Regions from separate parts of the Homo sapiens genome. Here region 2 is linked to region 1. A link means that fine-mapping ties the variant in region 1 to the expression of a gene that starts in the linked region. Tissue or cell type: coronary artery. Region 1 holds a variant in brackets; the other region holds the start of a gene. All regions are shown on one strand. Distances are between the middles of the regions.

Region 1 (8,102 bases):
CAGGTGTGGTAGCACATGCCTGTAGTCCCAGCTACTTGGGAGGCTGAGGCAGGAGAATTGCTTGAACCTGGGAGGCGAAGGTTGCAGTGAGCCAAGACCACCCCATTGCACTCCAGCCTGGGCAACAGAGTGAGACTCTGTCTCAAAAAAATTAAAAAATTAAAAAATAAGTGGGGGCCAGGCACAGTGGCTTATGCCTATAATCCCAGCACTTTGGAAGGCTGAGGCAGACAGATAACCTTGAGGTCAGGAGTTCGAAACCAGCCTGCCCAACATGGCAAAACCCCACCGCTACTAAAAATGCAAAAATTAGCCGGGTGTGGTGGCGCATGCTTGTAATCCCAGCTACTCAGGAGGATGAGGCAGGAGAATGACTTGAACCTGGGAGGCAGAAGTTGCAGTGAGCCAAGATGGTACCACTACACTCAAGCCTGGGCAACAGAGCAAGACTCTGTCTCAAAAAAAAAAAAAAAGCCTGGGATCAGGCATGGCATCTCATACCTGTAATCCCAACACTTTAGGAGGCCAAGGCAAGAGGATCACTGAGCCCAGGAATTTGAGACCAGCTTGGGCAACATAGCAAGACCCCATCTCAAAACAATTTAAAAAATAAAGAATAAGTGAACACACCATGTCTCCCAACCAGGAAAAAAGAAACCAAAAATAAGAAGATCATCCTATCTAGTTCTGGCCCCCCAAAACAAATGAAATCTTGAGCCTTTCCCTTAGTTGGCTAACTTCATAACAAAACAATTTTTATCTCTGACTTGGGCAATGCTGATATCTAAAAATTTGTCACGACTTTTATGGGTGTGATAATATGTGAGAAAATTGCTATTTTCCGCCATGAATGGACTCAAAACAAACTCAGTGACCTTGGAAGGTTTGTCGTGCTTTTTTCCTTAAATTCCTGTTGTGTTTTATTTGATAAACCAGAGTCTTTATGAATTCTGACTCTCTTGAGCTTCTTTACAAGTAAGCTCTTTCTTTTTTTCTAAATGCTATTGTCTCTGAGCCTTACTTTCACATTAAGTAATACACAGAACTATTGAGCAGGACAGAGAAACAGATTCAAGGTTAAGTTTCCATAAGGAACATCTAAAACTTTGTCAAAGAACCAGTCTGAAGTGGAGTCATGTGGCTGGCCCTGGCGTGCACTGAATGTCTGGCTCTCAGCAAAACAGCACAAACAGGAGGTTCCCAGGACGGGGAATACATCCCCCTGGAAATCAGACCCCTGCAGGCGTCAGGCAGGTGGGTGACTGCACCAAGACCCAGCACAGCCTTTGAATCCCTGTGGATGTGGATTGGAATCTTGTCTCTACCATTCATGTTACCTTAGGTAAGTCTCTTAGCCTTTCTGAGCCTCAGTTTCCTCCTCTGTACAATGGGAATAATTAGAATCCACTTCTTTGATCTACTTAGGTTTAAAGGGCCAGAAGCAAAAAAAGGCCCTCAACACACAGAACTTTGCTTCCTATCCTGAGCTTAGAGGAACCAATGTTGGGCTGGGGTCCAGGGATGGGCCACTACCCCTAAGAAGGGGCAGTTAGAAAGGATGAGGAGGGAAACAGGGCCTCATAGCGACTGAAAGAAGTAGAGCTGGGAATGGACCCAGCTGTTAGAAGTGGGAACCCTGGCCAGGCGCGGTGGCTCACGCCTGTGATCCCAGCACTTTGGGAGGCCGAGGCGGGTGGATCACCTGAGGTCAGGAGTTCAAGACCAGCCTGGCCAACATGGTGAAACCCTGTCTCTACTAAAAATACAAAAATTAGCTGGATGTGCTGACAGCCACCTGTAATCCCAGCTGCTCCGGAGGCTGAGGCAGCAGAATCGCTTGAACCCAGGAGGTGGAGGTTGCAGTGAGCCGAGATCATGCCACTGCACTCCAGCCTGGGCGACAAGAGCGAAACACTGTCTCAAAAAAGAAAAGAAGAGAAGAGAAGAGAAGAGAAGAGAAGAGAAGAGAAGAGAAGAGAAGAGAAGAGAAGAGAAGAGAAGAGAAAAGAAACGAAACGAAAAGAAAAGAAAAGAAAAGAAAAGGGAATCCCAGCAGTTGGGGGAAGGAGAGGAGAGGCTGGGGCTCTAGATGGAGGCCGAGGCCTGGTTAGCATAACTCAACCCTAGCATCAGCGGCTGACGGGCTGACAGTAGGACTTGATGCTGAGCCCAGAAGGGGAGGCTAGAACTCTTCCACATCTCCAACCTCAAGTGAGGCTTGATCCTGCACCTGGGCTCTGGCCAAGCCTACTTCCGGGCCTGATGGCCCCTGCTGTGAAAAGAGGAGGGTCTCACAGTGTTGCTGCCGAGGAAGAAAGGGCTGCCTAGGGGTGAGGGGTGAAGCCTCCCTGGGCTACATCCCTGACTCCCACTTCTGTCCGTGGTGAATGGGGATGTGGCTGTTTCCAAACTCAGCTACATTTATTATCTCTGAGCCCTGCTCCCTGAGCAGCTTTTACGTAAAGCACGACGTGACTCTGCAAATGGACAACCTTGGCCACGCCAGTGGAAGAAGTCAAGTTGCCTTTTAGTTCCAGCCTTCGCATGCACTGCCACTCCCTCTCTTCATAGCCATACTGTAGTGTGTCCTCTTTGCACCCAATGGCCCATCTTCCTGCCATTCAGCAGATGTGAGGGGCAAAAGAGGGCAGGTGTGGCAAGGCATTGCCAAGCACAAGCATGGGCCAGCGTGTATCCTCTTCCCTAATCCCTGGCTGGCCCCCTAGACCAGAGGCCTCCTTAAGGGAAAAATCACCAACATGGCCCCTGAATGGCTGCAAACTCTGAGCCAGCTCCACCCTCCCCAGCCCCAAACCCATGGCTTCAGAAGTCAGCCTTGCCTTCTGGGCCTCAAGAATATCAAAGCCACATAGCTCTTGCATGGAGGCTTGGCTTGACCTTATGGGCTTACAAAAAGCTTCCATGTTTCCAATCTTATTAAATCCTCACAGCAACCCTGATAGGTAGGCCAAGCAATAATTAACCACTGCATTGCTCAGCCAGGAAGCTAAAGCTCAGAGAGGGCAGGTGGCTTGTGCATTGCTCAGCCAGGGAGCTAAAGCTCAGAGAGGGCAGGTGACTTGCACAAGGTCACAAAGCTAGTAAGTACCAGAAGCGAAATAAACATCCAAGTCTCTGGCCTCAAGGATCACACTTTCTGTTCTCTGCTTCAGCCATGCCTTTCTAGGGGTAAGCTTCCCATCAGTCAGATGGGCAAGCTGAAAGTGTGGAGGGTCTTTCTCGGGAACTGGCATCTAGAGGGTTGCCCAAAGCCCAAGGTCAGGTCATGTGCAGATTTGTCGTCAGTGCTTTGGGCAACATGAACCACAGACCTAAAACAGTAGCCAAAATCCTTCCCCATCACAAAAAGGAGACACAGAACATCAGGCAAAGGCTTCTTTCAGTTCTCCCTCCACTTAAGCAGCGAAAAGGACACCGTGCTCCCCACCAGGCCCTCAGGTAGAGTCCAGGTTCTGCCACGTAAGTCATGTGGCTTTGGGTAAAGCAGCTCAACTCCCTGAACTCAATGTCTTCATCTTTAAAGTGGGAATGATACCTCCATCCCCAATCTCGACACAGCCCAGCTCCCTGCTTCAGACCTGGGGACTGTGGATTCTCACCGTTCCCTCTCAGGCTCCCCTGAGAAAGAGAAGGCTCACATGGCATCCCCTCCCTCCCTTCCTGATCCCCAACCTCCACCTCCCAGCCCCAGATCAAACCCAGTTTACCAGGAGCCAAAACAAGGAGCTCAGTGCAATGGAAAAATCAGCCCAAGCAATTGTCTGACCAAATTGACTTGTCAGTCACCCTGCCCAGACAGGGCCTGGGAGAATCACCTGATCTGCACACAGGAAAGAATGATTTGTAAGCGTTGAGGCCAGGAGGAAAAACACCCAGGAAAGCCCCGACACAGAGACAACAACTCAGTCTGGGTTTCCATAGCAATCCCAGGAGGAACAGGAGGAGCTCATGCCAGGATCATTCAAGAGATGGCAGCCAGCAATCACCTTGCTCCGCCATCCACCGCTGAGCCATCTGCCCCAC[G/A]TCACTGAAGCAACAGGTTCCCTCTGCAAAGCCACCAACCCACGTGCCCAATCATCCAGCCCCAGAAAAATTTGAGATCTCCCCACCCTCTCTCCAGAGTCTGCTATGGTTTGGGAGAGGAACCCTAAAGCCATGTCCATACAATAATACATGGAAAATATGTGCAATCTTTTTTTGTTGTTGTTGTTGAGACGGAGTGTTGCTCTGTCACCCAGGCTGGAGTGCAGTGGCACGATCTTGGCTCACTGCAAGCTCCACCTCCTGGGTTCACACCATTCTCCTGCCTCAGCCTCCTGAGTAGCTGGGACTACAGGTGCCCGCCACCACGCCTGGCTAATTTTTTTGTATTTTTAGTAGAAACGGGGTTTCACCTTGTTAGCCAGGATGGCCTCGATCTCCTGACCTCATGATCCGTCCGCCTTGGCCTCCCAAAGTGCTGGGATTACAGGCATGAGCCACCACGCCTGGCCAATATGTGTAATCTTAAGTAAAAACATTACATCTACATATTTGTTCTGAGAGTCTAAGAAGAAAGAGCTCAAGACAGCAGAGCTTGCCCCCCTAAAGACTAGCATGTTTTTATGGCAGACACACACCTCAAAATCAGGACCGTGAAAAGTGAGTTACAAATAACTCACTTTTCTTCCTCTGAGAAGTATTAACTACCTCTGAGATTTCAGCATTTAAAACGGTTCTTTTCCTTATGCACTTTGACTTGATCTGTCTGTAGCATTTCTTATTTGGCAATAGGTATTTCCTACACCACCTGCTCTGGAAATAATACGAAATATACTCCAGGTGTGGCAAAGTCCCTCTGTTCTGTTCCAAGTGTGTTTTTGATTGCTCGTGGTACAGGCTGAGGGAGGGAAGTTTGCTAAAAATTTGGGAAATTCAGTAACTGTCGCTGCCTCCTGCACCCGCGGTTGGGGTCTTCTCTACACCTTCTCTTCCACCCTTGCTTCTTTCCAGCTTCTATCCCTTCCTTTGGTGACCCATTGGGTCCTTCTGTTTTGTTAAGATGCTCCCGCTGGGTGCCAGCACAGGCTCTCCCCAACTCCATCCTTGCTGAGTCACAAAGTAGAAGGTGTGTATGGGAGAAACTGGGTGTGGGGTATACGGGAACTCTCTGTAATATTCTTGCAACTTTCCTATACATCTAAAACTATTCTAAACTGAAACAGTTATTTTAAAATAAAATAACCAACCAAAGAGGAGGGTGCGGGCTCTGCTCCCAGGAGCGAGGAGAAAGCGTGGCCTGGAATCCTCATTCAGAGTTTACGTAAGGCCCAAAGACACCACATCAGAGCAAGTCATAATGTTTCCCACATGAGAAAAGGTTATTCCTCCTGTTAAGACAACATTGACCTTGTCCTTTAAGAGAAACTATTCCAGCACATTGTTGTGCTAAGAAACATTTGACTCTGCATTCCCACTGTGAATGACACCCTCTCTGAGGGCATGGCACCAACTCTGACTGGCGTGTTTGTTTCAAATCTCTCTCTCTCTCTTTCTCTCTCTCTCTCTCTCTCTCTCTCTCTCTCTCACACACACACAAACACACACCCCTACTCATTATAATGGAGGGGGCAATGCATCTTGCCACATCATAAAAATTGAACTTGCATGGGGTTAATAATTATTTGAATAGTGTTACATCATAGTGTGTTATTATAATTGTTTGAATGTCTTGGATATAACAGAAGTGGAGGACCTATCACCTCGCTGAACCTGCACAACCTCTCCCTGAGGCAGGCATTGTGACCTCCATTTCACAGCTTGGGAAGCTCATTCAAAGAGGAAGGCCGTTTGCCCAAGCTGTGAGGTTAGTCCATGGTGGAGCTGAGATCCAGCCCCAGGCCTCTCTGCCTCCAGGGCCAAGACGGTTCTCCCTTATTCCACAGCTACTCCAGGCACGGTTTTCTCTTTCGACCAAACAAGACCCAAATTTCAGCAGAGACTCCTGAGACGTGCTGAGGATGGGGGAGATTCCCTGTGTCCATCATCCCAGAGCCAACGCTCTTCATTGAACAACTGTTAGAAGGAATCCCATGTGCTCAGATACATTTCACCTGATATTCTAACACAAGACAGCGGGGGCATCTTGTAGATATTGCTGAATTGGGCAGGAGAAAGCTCCTACCTGAAGTAATGTAACCAAAAGCCTTGCCTGGTTGGTAGGAAACACATCCGGGTTCAAGGAAATGCACCTGCCTGTTCTGACCACCAAGTTCTGTGTGGCCCAAGCTTCTCATCATTTAAGCATGAGCTTAAATGTCACCTCTCAGAGAGGCCTGCCCTGAGTCCCTGATCTCATGCATGTCCTCCTGTGAATCTGAATAGCTTCTAGAGCTTTTTCATAATAACAGCTACCATCATTTGTGAATTTATACTTATTGGTGAGCTCATAAGATTTTTTTTTCTTTTGAGATGGAGTCTCACTCTGTCGCCCAGGCTGGAGTGCAATGGCCTGGTCTCGGCTCACTGCAACCTCTGCCTCCCGAGTTCAAGCGATTCTCCTCCCTCAGCCTCCCGAGAAGCTGGGATTACAGGCATGCACCACCACACCTGGCTAATTTTTGTATTTTTAGTAGAGAGGAGGTTTCACCATGTTGGCCAGTCTAATCTCGAACTCCTGACCTCAGGTGATCCACCCACCTCAGCCTCCCAAAGTGCTGGGATTACAGGCATGAGCTACCATGCCCAGCCATATGCTCATAAGATTTAATGTCCTGTCCCCCCATTAGGAAAATGGACTCAGAACCTGTCTTGTTCATCCCTGTATTCGCAGGCATCCTTCTTTCCCAAAGTAAGCGCTCAATAAATATTTCAAGAAAGGCAGTTTAGAAAGCTGCCTTTCTAACACACAGAGGGTGTTCCTAATGCTTTTAACACAATGGAAGAGCAACGTACTTGAGCATGAGAGAGTCTGGAGATGGACAAAGGACAGAGAATGGAACACTGCTGCCCAGTGAGGTGGAAGCTACCCTGCAGTGCTCTGGACACTGACGTGGAGGGGAGCTGTCACGGTGACGAGGACCTTCACCTCGGGGGGAACTCACCCTCCAGGATGCCAAATCTGATAAGTCCTTTAGAGGCCTCCAATCAGATTCTGACCACACGCCACCCCTTCCAGTAACCTTGCAGACTCCAGGGACAATCATCTGCTCCTGGGGTCACTCTGTTCATTTTCCATAGCTGCTGCAACAAGTTATCACAGATTAAGTGGCTTAAAACTACACAAACTTATTAGCTTATGGTTCTGTAGGTCAGAAATTTGACATAAGTCTCACTGGGCTAAAATCAAGGACAGGACTATGGACAGGACTATGTTCCTCCTGGAGGCTGCAGGGGAGAATCCATGTCTTTGCCTCTTCTAGCTTCTAAAGGGTACCTGCATTCCCTGGCTCACGGCCCCTTCCACTACCTACAAAGCCAGCAGAGGCTGGTAGAGTCTTTCTCACAACCCATCGCTCCAACCTTCTCTTCTACCTCCCCTTTCTGTTTTTAAGGGCCCTTGGGATTGCATTGGTTTCACCAAGAACAATCCAGAATAATTTCTTCTTCTTAAGTCATCTGATTAGCAACCTTAATTCCACTTGCAACCTTAATTCCCCTTTGCTGTGTAAGCTAACAGATTCAGAGGTTCTGGGGATTAGGTTGTGGACATCTTGGGAGGGACATTATTCTCCCTGCCATAGTCAAAAATTTTGATGGCCACCACTGTCTCTAAAACCCAATGGGCTCCTGTGTACTGTGCTAACATGATGGAGAGGCCGTTTCCCTACTCACTGGCCTGACTAGAGCCCTGGCTTTCTTGGAAGCTGCCTGGGTGGCTCCCTGTGCTTTTCTAGAAACCTCCCAGGGTCCTGAGCAACCCCCTGTGTTTACTGCAATGCTGTGGTCAGCCCAGTAGCACACATCCTTGTATTTGCTTTGACTCCTTTTCTGCTTCACTTTCCCTTTTTCTCAGACATGATTCCTGGGACTTGCACCATCTTCCCCTAAATAAACCATCAGCAAGGAAACTTTTGTCTCAGGTTCTGTTCTCTAGGAAATGC
Region 2 (8,083 bases), 550 kb after region 1:
GATCCACTGGCCTCGGCCTCGCAAAGTGCTGGAATTACAGGCACGACCCACCACATCCGGCCCTCTGTTCCTTGTTTCGAAATAACTCAATTAAAAGTCAGAGGCTCACTGGCCACATCTCCTTCCACCCACCCACCGCCCCACCCCCCAAAAGATGCCTCTAGCAAATAAAATGAGACGTCCTGATGCCTTCCTGGCTCGTTCCAGAATTTTTAGCTTTGACTTTTGACGTGGGGTCCTTCTACCTAAAGTCCCCGCCGTCACATCAGCCCCCAGTTTTCCTCTGTCTTAGCTCGGGCTGCCGTAACAAAATACCATAGACTGGATGCCAGACAACAGAAATTTATTTTCTCAGTTTTGGAGGCTGCAAGGCTGTGACCAGGGCCCAACATGGTCAGGTTCTGGTGAGAGCTCCCTGGCTGCCTTCTCACAGGGTCCTCACATGGCAGAGAGAGAGGGACCCAAAGCCCTCTGGTGTCTTTTTTGTTTGTTTGTTATTTTTTGGGACGGAGTCTCACACTGCTGCCAGGCTGGAGTGCAGTGGCCCGATCTCGGCTCACTGCAACCTCCACCTCCCAGGTTCAAGTAATTCTCCAGCCCCAGCCTCCCAATTAGCTGGGATTACAGGCACCCACCACCACACCCGGCTAATTTTTGTATTTTTAGTAGAGAGGGGCTTTCACCATGCTGGCCAGGCTGGTCTCGAACTCCTGAGCCCAGCTGATCCACCCGCCTCGGTTTCCCAAAGTGCTGGGATTACAGGCGTGAGCCACTGCGCCTGGCCAGAACTCAGTCCTTACAGAACATCAGAGAATCCATACAAGGTGAGAGAGAGGCCTTATAAATGCATTGGGTGTGGGAAAGATTTGAAGGGGAGCTCACAACTTATTCAGCATCAAAGAATTCACAGTGGAAAGAAACTTTGTGAATGCAATGAATGTTCAAAGACTTGTAATCAGAGCTCACACTTTATTCGACATCATAGAATTCATAGTGGAGAAAAGCCCTATGAATGTGACAAGCATGGGAAAGCCTTCAGATGGAGCTCAGACCTTGTGAGGCATCTGGAAATTCATATTGGAGATAAAGTTTTGGAATGTAGCGAGCGTGGAAGAATTTTCAATCAGAGCTCAGGTCTAATGCAGCACCAAAGAAACCATACAGAATCATAACCCTAGGAAGACAGTAATGATAAAGATGTCAGTATGTACATATAGGAAGAGAGAAGGAGAGTTTGTTTTTGTCCTAACTATTTGGAAAATTGTAAGCTTCCTAAGAGCAATTTTCATCTGATTCAGTGTATAGTACTTAGTCTCAGGTCATGTGCAGATATGTCCTTCCCAAATGCTTACCACAAGATAAATCAGAAATCTTGACTGGAATAAGCTTCTAGTTCCTTTGCTTTATCATGAGAGGTTCCACACCACAGGAAAATCTTGTAAATGGTGGAAGCTGCATAAAGCACCATCATCATCACAAAATGGTGTCCTTGTGTGTCCTGTTTAGCAGCACCGAGAATCTAATAGCTTTCCCCTTGTCTGTTTTTCCTTACTATGAATTGTGCCAGGGGAACAGTAAAATGGGTATGATATCCTGAACTCTAGGGTGGATGTCTTTCTGGGACAGAATCTAATCCAAAAGTCTGCAAATGGACTTGAGGTTTTCACATTAGTATAAATGTCAATATGTAGTTTAGGGAATTTGCCTTATTCCTCCATTCCTAGCAAAATTAGATACAGAAGCAGCTAATTAAATCAGGAAAAGGAAACTGACAGTAAGTCATAGGACCCATTGTCTTCTCTCATGTAAAAGTAGAAGTTGTGATTCAATCTGTTCTGTAGGATTTAAAAGTATAATGGCACATTGAAGTTTGACATACTGAAATTCAGGCTCTGTCAATTTCATCTCTGTAACCTTTATTGTTTCTGAGTCTTGAGTTTTCTCATCTGTAAAATCAAGATAATGACATTAATACAATCCCTTGTGGAGCAACTGTGAAGACTAAATAAGACAATTTCATTAAGTTCCTGGCATAGTTCTAGACACGTAGTAGACATTCAACAAATGATAACTATTTTTATCCATAGCTCCTACGTGCAGTAATTATCAATGGCACTTTGAAGGAAAAAAGATAATATATCCCCCAGCCATGGGGGTGTCAATGCGCATTTTCAAGGATACTATATCTTGGAGAAACAAATTTAATAATCTGAGAATCTGAGAACTGTTACTATGGTACTACACAGTTGAACAACAATTTTTCTTGGAGAGACTAGGATTAAGCTATTTTATAAAAGTATTGAGAGACTGGATCAATCAATATCCTGCAAAATTGATAGTGAGATAAATTTATTTTTAATTAATTTTTTTTTTGAGACGGAGTCTCACTCTGTCGCCCAGGCTAGAGTGCAGTGGCACAATCTCAGCTTATTGCAACCTCTGCCTCCCGGGTTCAAACGATTCTCCTGCCTCCTGAGTAGTGGGGACTACAGGCGCCCGCCACCACGCCCAGCTAACCTTTTTGTATTTTTAATAGAGACAGGGTTTCACCATGTTGGCCACCATGTCTCAAAAAAAAAATAAAAAATAATCGGCCGGGCGCCTGTAAACCCAGCACTTTGGGAGGCCGAGACGGGCGGATCACGAGGTCAGGAGATCGAGACCATCCTGGCTAATATGGTGAAACGCCGTGTCTCCTACCAAAAAAAAAAAATTAGCCGGGCGTGGTGGCGGGCGCCTCTAGTCCCAGCTACTCAGGAGGCTGAGGCAGGAGAATGGCGTGAACCCGGGAGGCGGAGCTTGCAGTGAGCCAAGATCGCGCCACTGCACTCCAGCCTGGGCGACAGAGCAAGACTCCGTCTCAAATAAATAAATAAAATAAAAAATAACAACAACAAAAAAACACCAACCCCTATTTCCCCCATCGCAATAAAATTAACCTTAGAATTCTTTTTTCTCCTCCCCTCCCCCTACGCCCCAGGAATTGTACAGGCTAGTGGTTGGGGAATATTTTTTCGTGGAAGGGACCGTCTTCCTTAGCTGTGGCCCTCTCATCAGGTCTGGGAAGAGGTAATTGGAAAATAGAACTCATGGAGAAGTGTTACCACAGGCCATGGACAAGGCCAGAATTTCCCTGACATCTGTCCGCCAGCACCGCCCTTCAGGTACAATTCCACAAGAGACCCCCCAAACTTGATGAAGTCACCCGCTTACAAGGGCTCACTCTCCACCTGCGCAAGGACTGCAATTCCCAGGGGCCTCCAGGGCACCCGGCCGCTCCAGTCCAGTCGTGCAGGCGGCGCGCTCTTTCTCGCTCCGCTCAAGTCCAGGAACCGGTTCCCGGGCTCCCAGCCTCTCGGCAGCGCCCACGCGCCTGGGCCAAAGTCCGCGAACGGAAGCCGGCGGCGAGGAGGATTCTGGGAGTTGGAGGCCGAGGCTGCGACCTGCGCAGGCGCAAACCTGCCCCTGGGGTGAGGGCTGTAAGTGGCGCGATTCGCGGCAGCGCCCCGATGGAACCTCCTGGTCCTGTGAGGTGAGTGTTGGCGGCGGCTTCCCCGAGGTCCACCTGGCGGCTTGGCTTTTGCCCGTCCCGCAGGCAGCGGCGGCTCTGCAGTGAGCAGGCCTGGCAGGCAGCTCCGCGGTTGTGTGTGGAGAGGGGTTTGGGTTGCCCGTGGTGCCCGCGCTGCGCTACCTGCGTTGCGTCGCGTCACGTGCCGTGGAGGGGGGTCTTGATGTTCCTCTTCTCTTTTCTCGAGACCCTTGGGTAGGGAGTGAAGGGTGGGAAGGGGAGTTGTACCTGGCCTGGACGACAGCCCCCTCCCCGGGCGGGCACCTGCCCGAGGCCGGGGTAGAGAAGTTTTGCTGGGGCCAGCGGCGCCGGGCATCACCCTGGGAGACGCGAGCTCCGCGTTTTTCCTCGCGCCTCCTTTGTCTTAGGCCAGCGGTCCCCCTTTGTGCTCCTTTCGTGGCCTCTGATGCGTTCCACCTCCTTCCCTGTGTGAAAGGAAAATAAAATCTCAGGACCCCAAACTTACTATGACAAAGGGAAAAGTTAAGCTTGGAAACTGAGTCACGGAAAAAAACTGCTTTTCCTTTTGTTCCTAAACCGATAGCTGCAAGATAGAAAGCAACATATGCCCCCAGGTGGCCTCCCTCACCCTGGCAATGGAAACGAACAGCCGAGCTTCACCGGACAAGACTAGAAATCGTTCCTCCACCCACCCAGAGACAAAGCATATTTGACTTCTTCCTCTACTGTATGTCTACCTTATCTTGTGTAAAATGCAGATTTACTGAGCACGAGACAAATTCATAATTGACTTCCTCTTTTCACGTGCAACATGTGGATTCAGTGAGCTCTAATCAAATCCTCACAAGAATGTGGCCACTTACCTCACCACATACCCTCCCTCTTCTCTCCTCCTTCCCCTCCTGCCAGCTTTCTCCCCATTAAATTGAAGCCCTCAAAACCCTCTTTGGTAAAAGTGCGAGCCACGGATCCTACTGTGGCTTGTGTGTCTTTTTCCTGGGTGCATCCTCAACCTTAGCAAAATAACCCCTAAATTGGTTGAGACCTATCTCAGATGCTTTTTTGGTTTACACCTGTTAGATTTCCTTGACGCAGGCCACTGTACCCGAGACTTGTTCATAGCTGCCCCTTAATAGGGCTTTGGCATTTGAATGAGATCCAGCTCCTTAAAGGGGACTTATATTTTTCTTTTGCTGTAGCTACTACTTCAGAAATTTTTGAAAGCAGGGAGGAGCCATCTCAGAGGAGGCTGCCTCCCCAACACATTCCACCTTGCACTGAAAGCTGCTCGGCTCTGGGCTCTGCATCTGGAAACTTGGGTTTTGCTTCAAACTTATTTCTTCCAATAGTCATTTCTTCCCATAGGCCCCCAGAACTTTTTTTTTCTTGATACATTTTTCCTGTCAATGGCATTTAATTAGTTGTATTATAGAAAACCACTTTACATCCCCGTTTCTACCACGGTGCAAGTTTCTCAAAAACATTGACTTAGTGCAGCAGAATTCTGGGGAGGGGTGGAAGAAAAAGCGGGACTACAGGGCATAGGACAGGGTTTGGCTCTTTGGAGTGTTGAGTATATGTATATGTTTAATGAATGAAAAAAGAAGAGGAGGACGGGCGCGGTGGCTCATGCCTGTAATCCTACCACTTTGGGAGGCCGAGGTGGGTGGGTCACCTGAGGTCAGGAGTTCAAGACCAGCCTGGCCAATATGGCAAAACCCCGTCCCTACTAAAAATACAAAAAAATTAGCTGGATGTGGTGGCAGGCGCCTGTAATCCCAGCTACTTGGGAGGCTGAGGTAGGAGAATCGCTAGAACCCCGGGGGTGGAGGTTGCAGTGAGCTGAGATCATGTCACTGCACTCCAGCCTGGGTAACAGAGAAAGACTCTGTCTTAAAAAAAAAAAAGAGGAATGATTTCTTCTTATGTTACAGGGGGCCCTTGCAAGATTCCAGCTGGTATGAGCCTTCTGCAGAGCTAGTGCAGACTAGGATGGCTGTATCACTAACAGCAGCTGAAACTCTGGCCCTTCAGGGTACACAGGGACAAGAGAAGATGATGATGATGGGACCAAAGGAAGAGGAACAGTCTTGTGAGTATGAGACCAGGCTACCTGGGAACCACTCTACCAGTCAAGAGATCTTCCGCCAACGCTTCAGGCATCTCCGCTACCAGGAGACTCCTGGTCCCCGGGAGGCCTTGAGCCAACTACGAGTACTCTGCTGTGAGTGGCTGAGGCCAGAGAAACACACGAAGGAGCAGATCCTGGAGTTCCTGGTGCTGGAACAATTCTTGACCATCCTGCCTGAGGAGCTCCAATCCTGGGTGCGGGGACATCACCCTAAGAGTGGAGAGGAGGCTGTGACTGTGCTGGAGGATTTAGAGAAAGGACTTGAACCAGAGCCGCAGGTGGGAAGGGGGATTTGGTCTGTTATGGGAGCCAGATTGATGACCTTCAGGCTGGACCGAGGGGCAGCTGTAGGGGGAGGTGCCAAGTTCAAACCTCTCTTGGGCCAGGTAGAGCAGTTAGTATGTGTTTCTGTGTCTGTCTTTTCTGCCCTCGAGCCCTGAATGAGAAAGAGACTCTAGCTCCTCTTCTTCCCTTGTGCTGACTCTGAGGAGGCTCTCTAAAGTCTCCTTGGAAGCTTTGGTCCAAGGAGGGTCACATCTGCAAGTGTCCAGGCAGGGGACAGAAACCACACTAGTAATTTGAAGAAAATTTAAACTGAGTGGTGCCTGATCACCTCCAGGTCCCAGGCCCTGCACATGGACCTGCACAGGAAGAGCCATGGGAGAAGAAGGAATCTCTGGGAGCAGCCCAGGAAGCACTGAGCATCCAGCTCCAGCCTAAGGAGACCCAGCCTTTCCCAAAGAGTGGTGAGGAGCAGGATTCTGTGGGGAGGGAGAGGAGAAAGAGGGACTATAAAGGGCACAGTACCTAGTACCTGTAAAGGGTAAATAGTAGTAGGTGCTTAAATGTTTGGTATCATCACAGCCTTACTATTCTTATCTCTTAGGTGAGAGACTTTGCCTGTTTCATCACTCATAAAATTAGGAGTAAGAATAAACTACCTCATAAGATAGCTCTGAGGATTAAGCTCAACTTGGGTCTTATCTGGATATAAAGCCTGGCCAGCATCTCTTAACTTTAGAGAGCCCTAAATCAGGACCAGGAAATAGCTCATTCATTTATGCCTTATCATCTCCACTGCACTTAACTCCTAGTCTATAATAACTCTGCCCTGAGCTAGAGGCCAGCCTTGAGATCCTTTTTTTTTTTTTAAACTCGCTGAGGCCTCGCAAAACACTTTTTAAGCCATAAAGCACTCCTATGTGAGATACAGCCTGTCATCACCTTTACCACCTCTTCCTCATGTAAACAGCCCTATCTGAAACTCTCTTATGTGTGCCCTCACCTTCTACCCTTCAGATTCACTACAGAAACTTCCTTCTTGGCCTGCATACATACCTGCAAACAACCTCTCCTCTCTCCCAGCGGCGAACACTAGACTTAGAGCCTCAGGGGCGTGAACTCTCCTTGTTGACCTCTGTAGCCTTGTGACCGTATTGTGAATATGCGGCTAACCAAGAAGAGTCTACTTGATATTTGCTTTTACACCATAACTGCCCCCCCATCACTATCACCAAACCAAGGCATTTGAAAAATCAAATTCTTCTTAGTTACAAAATGGGAAAAAATAGAAATGGAGATTAATTAGACTCTGTCCCAAAAGTATGTTTCTACTTCTTAGCTCTTCTTTCTTCCTTGACTTTTTTCCAGACTTTTTCTTGTCTCCTTTACTTCTGTTTAGTAAGCCTCTATTCATTTATCAATTTTATTACTTTACTCTCAAAAAGAAGCTAGCTATTGTGTGATTTTTTTTTTATATATAGCAAGCATATTTCAGATTTTTTTAACCACAGCATTTAACCTGAAAAAATGAATTTTTAAAAAATCAAATGATCTTGGCTGGGCACGGTGGCTCACGCCTATAATCCCAGCACTTTGGGAGGCTAAGGCAGGTGGATCACTTGGGTCAGGAGTTCAAGACCAGCCTGGCCAACATGGTGAAACCCTGTCTCTACTAAAAATTCAAAAATTAGCCAGGTGTGATACGCGCCTGTAATCCCAGCTACTGGGGAGGCTGAGGCACGAGAATCACTTGAACCAGGGAAGCAGAGGTTGCAGTGAGCCAAGATCATGCCACTACACTCCAGCCTGGGCAACAGAGCAAGACTCTGTCAAAAAAAAAAAAAAAGTCAAATGACCTTGAGTTATCTTAAAGCAATTGGTTTCTGTTCTCCTTAGGCTATAGGGAGCATTACAACAGATAAAACATAAAATGTGCTATGGACATTTAAAAACAAAAAGGCAACACACTCTTTTTTTTTTTTTTTTTTTTTTTTTCCTTTTTGAGATGGAGTCTCGCTCTGTCGCCCAGGCTGGAGTGCAGTGGCGTGATCTCGGCTCACTGCAAGCTCCACTTCCCGGGTTCACGCCATTCTCCTGCCTCAGCCTCCTGAGTAGCTGGGACTACAGGCGCCCGCCATCAT

Evidence for each region. PIP is the estimated chance that this variant, and not a neighbour inherited with it, causes the effect.
Region 2: ZNF232-AS1 starts here. The variant in region 1 is fine-mapped to the expression of ZNF232-AS1 in coronary artery (GTEx, PIP above 0.99). The same link has a PIP of 0.9 or more in left ventricle and thyroid.

The regions. Positions count from the first base shown.
Region 1 is chr17:5,653,295-5,661,396 of GRCh38, reverse strand. No RefSeq gene overlaps it. Among named protein-coding and RNA genes, the nearest start is that of NLRP1, 73 kb to the right of the region's middle. The variant G/A (reference allele first, on the strand shown) is at 4,045.
Region 2 is chr17:5,107,249-5,115,331 of GRCh38, reverse strand. It overlaps ZNF232-AS1 (ZNF232 antisense RNA 1), which reads right to left and starts at 3,397. Exons shown (of 3, transcript NR_135658.1): 1 at 3,231-3,397; 2 at 1,880-1,946; 3 at 950-1,174. It overlaps ZNF232 (zinc finger protein 232), which reads left to right and starts at 3,454. Exons shown (of 4, transcript NM_014519.6): 1 at 3,454-3,532; 2 at 5,464-5,938; 3 at 6,280-6,406. The coding sequence starts at 3,510. RefSeq lists an enhancer at 3,094-3,143.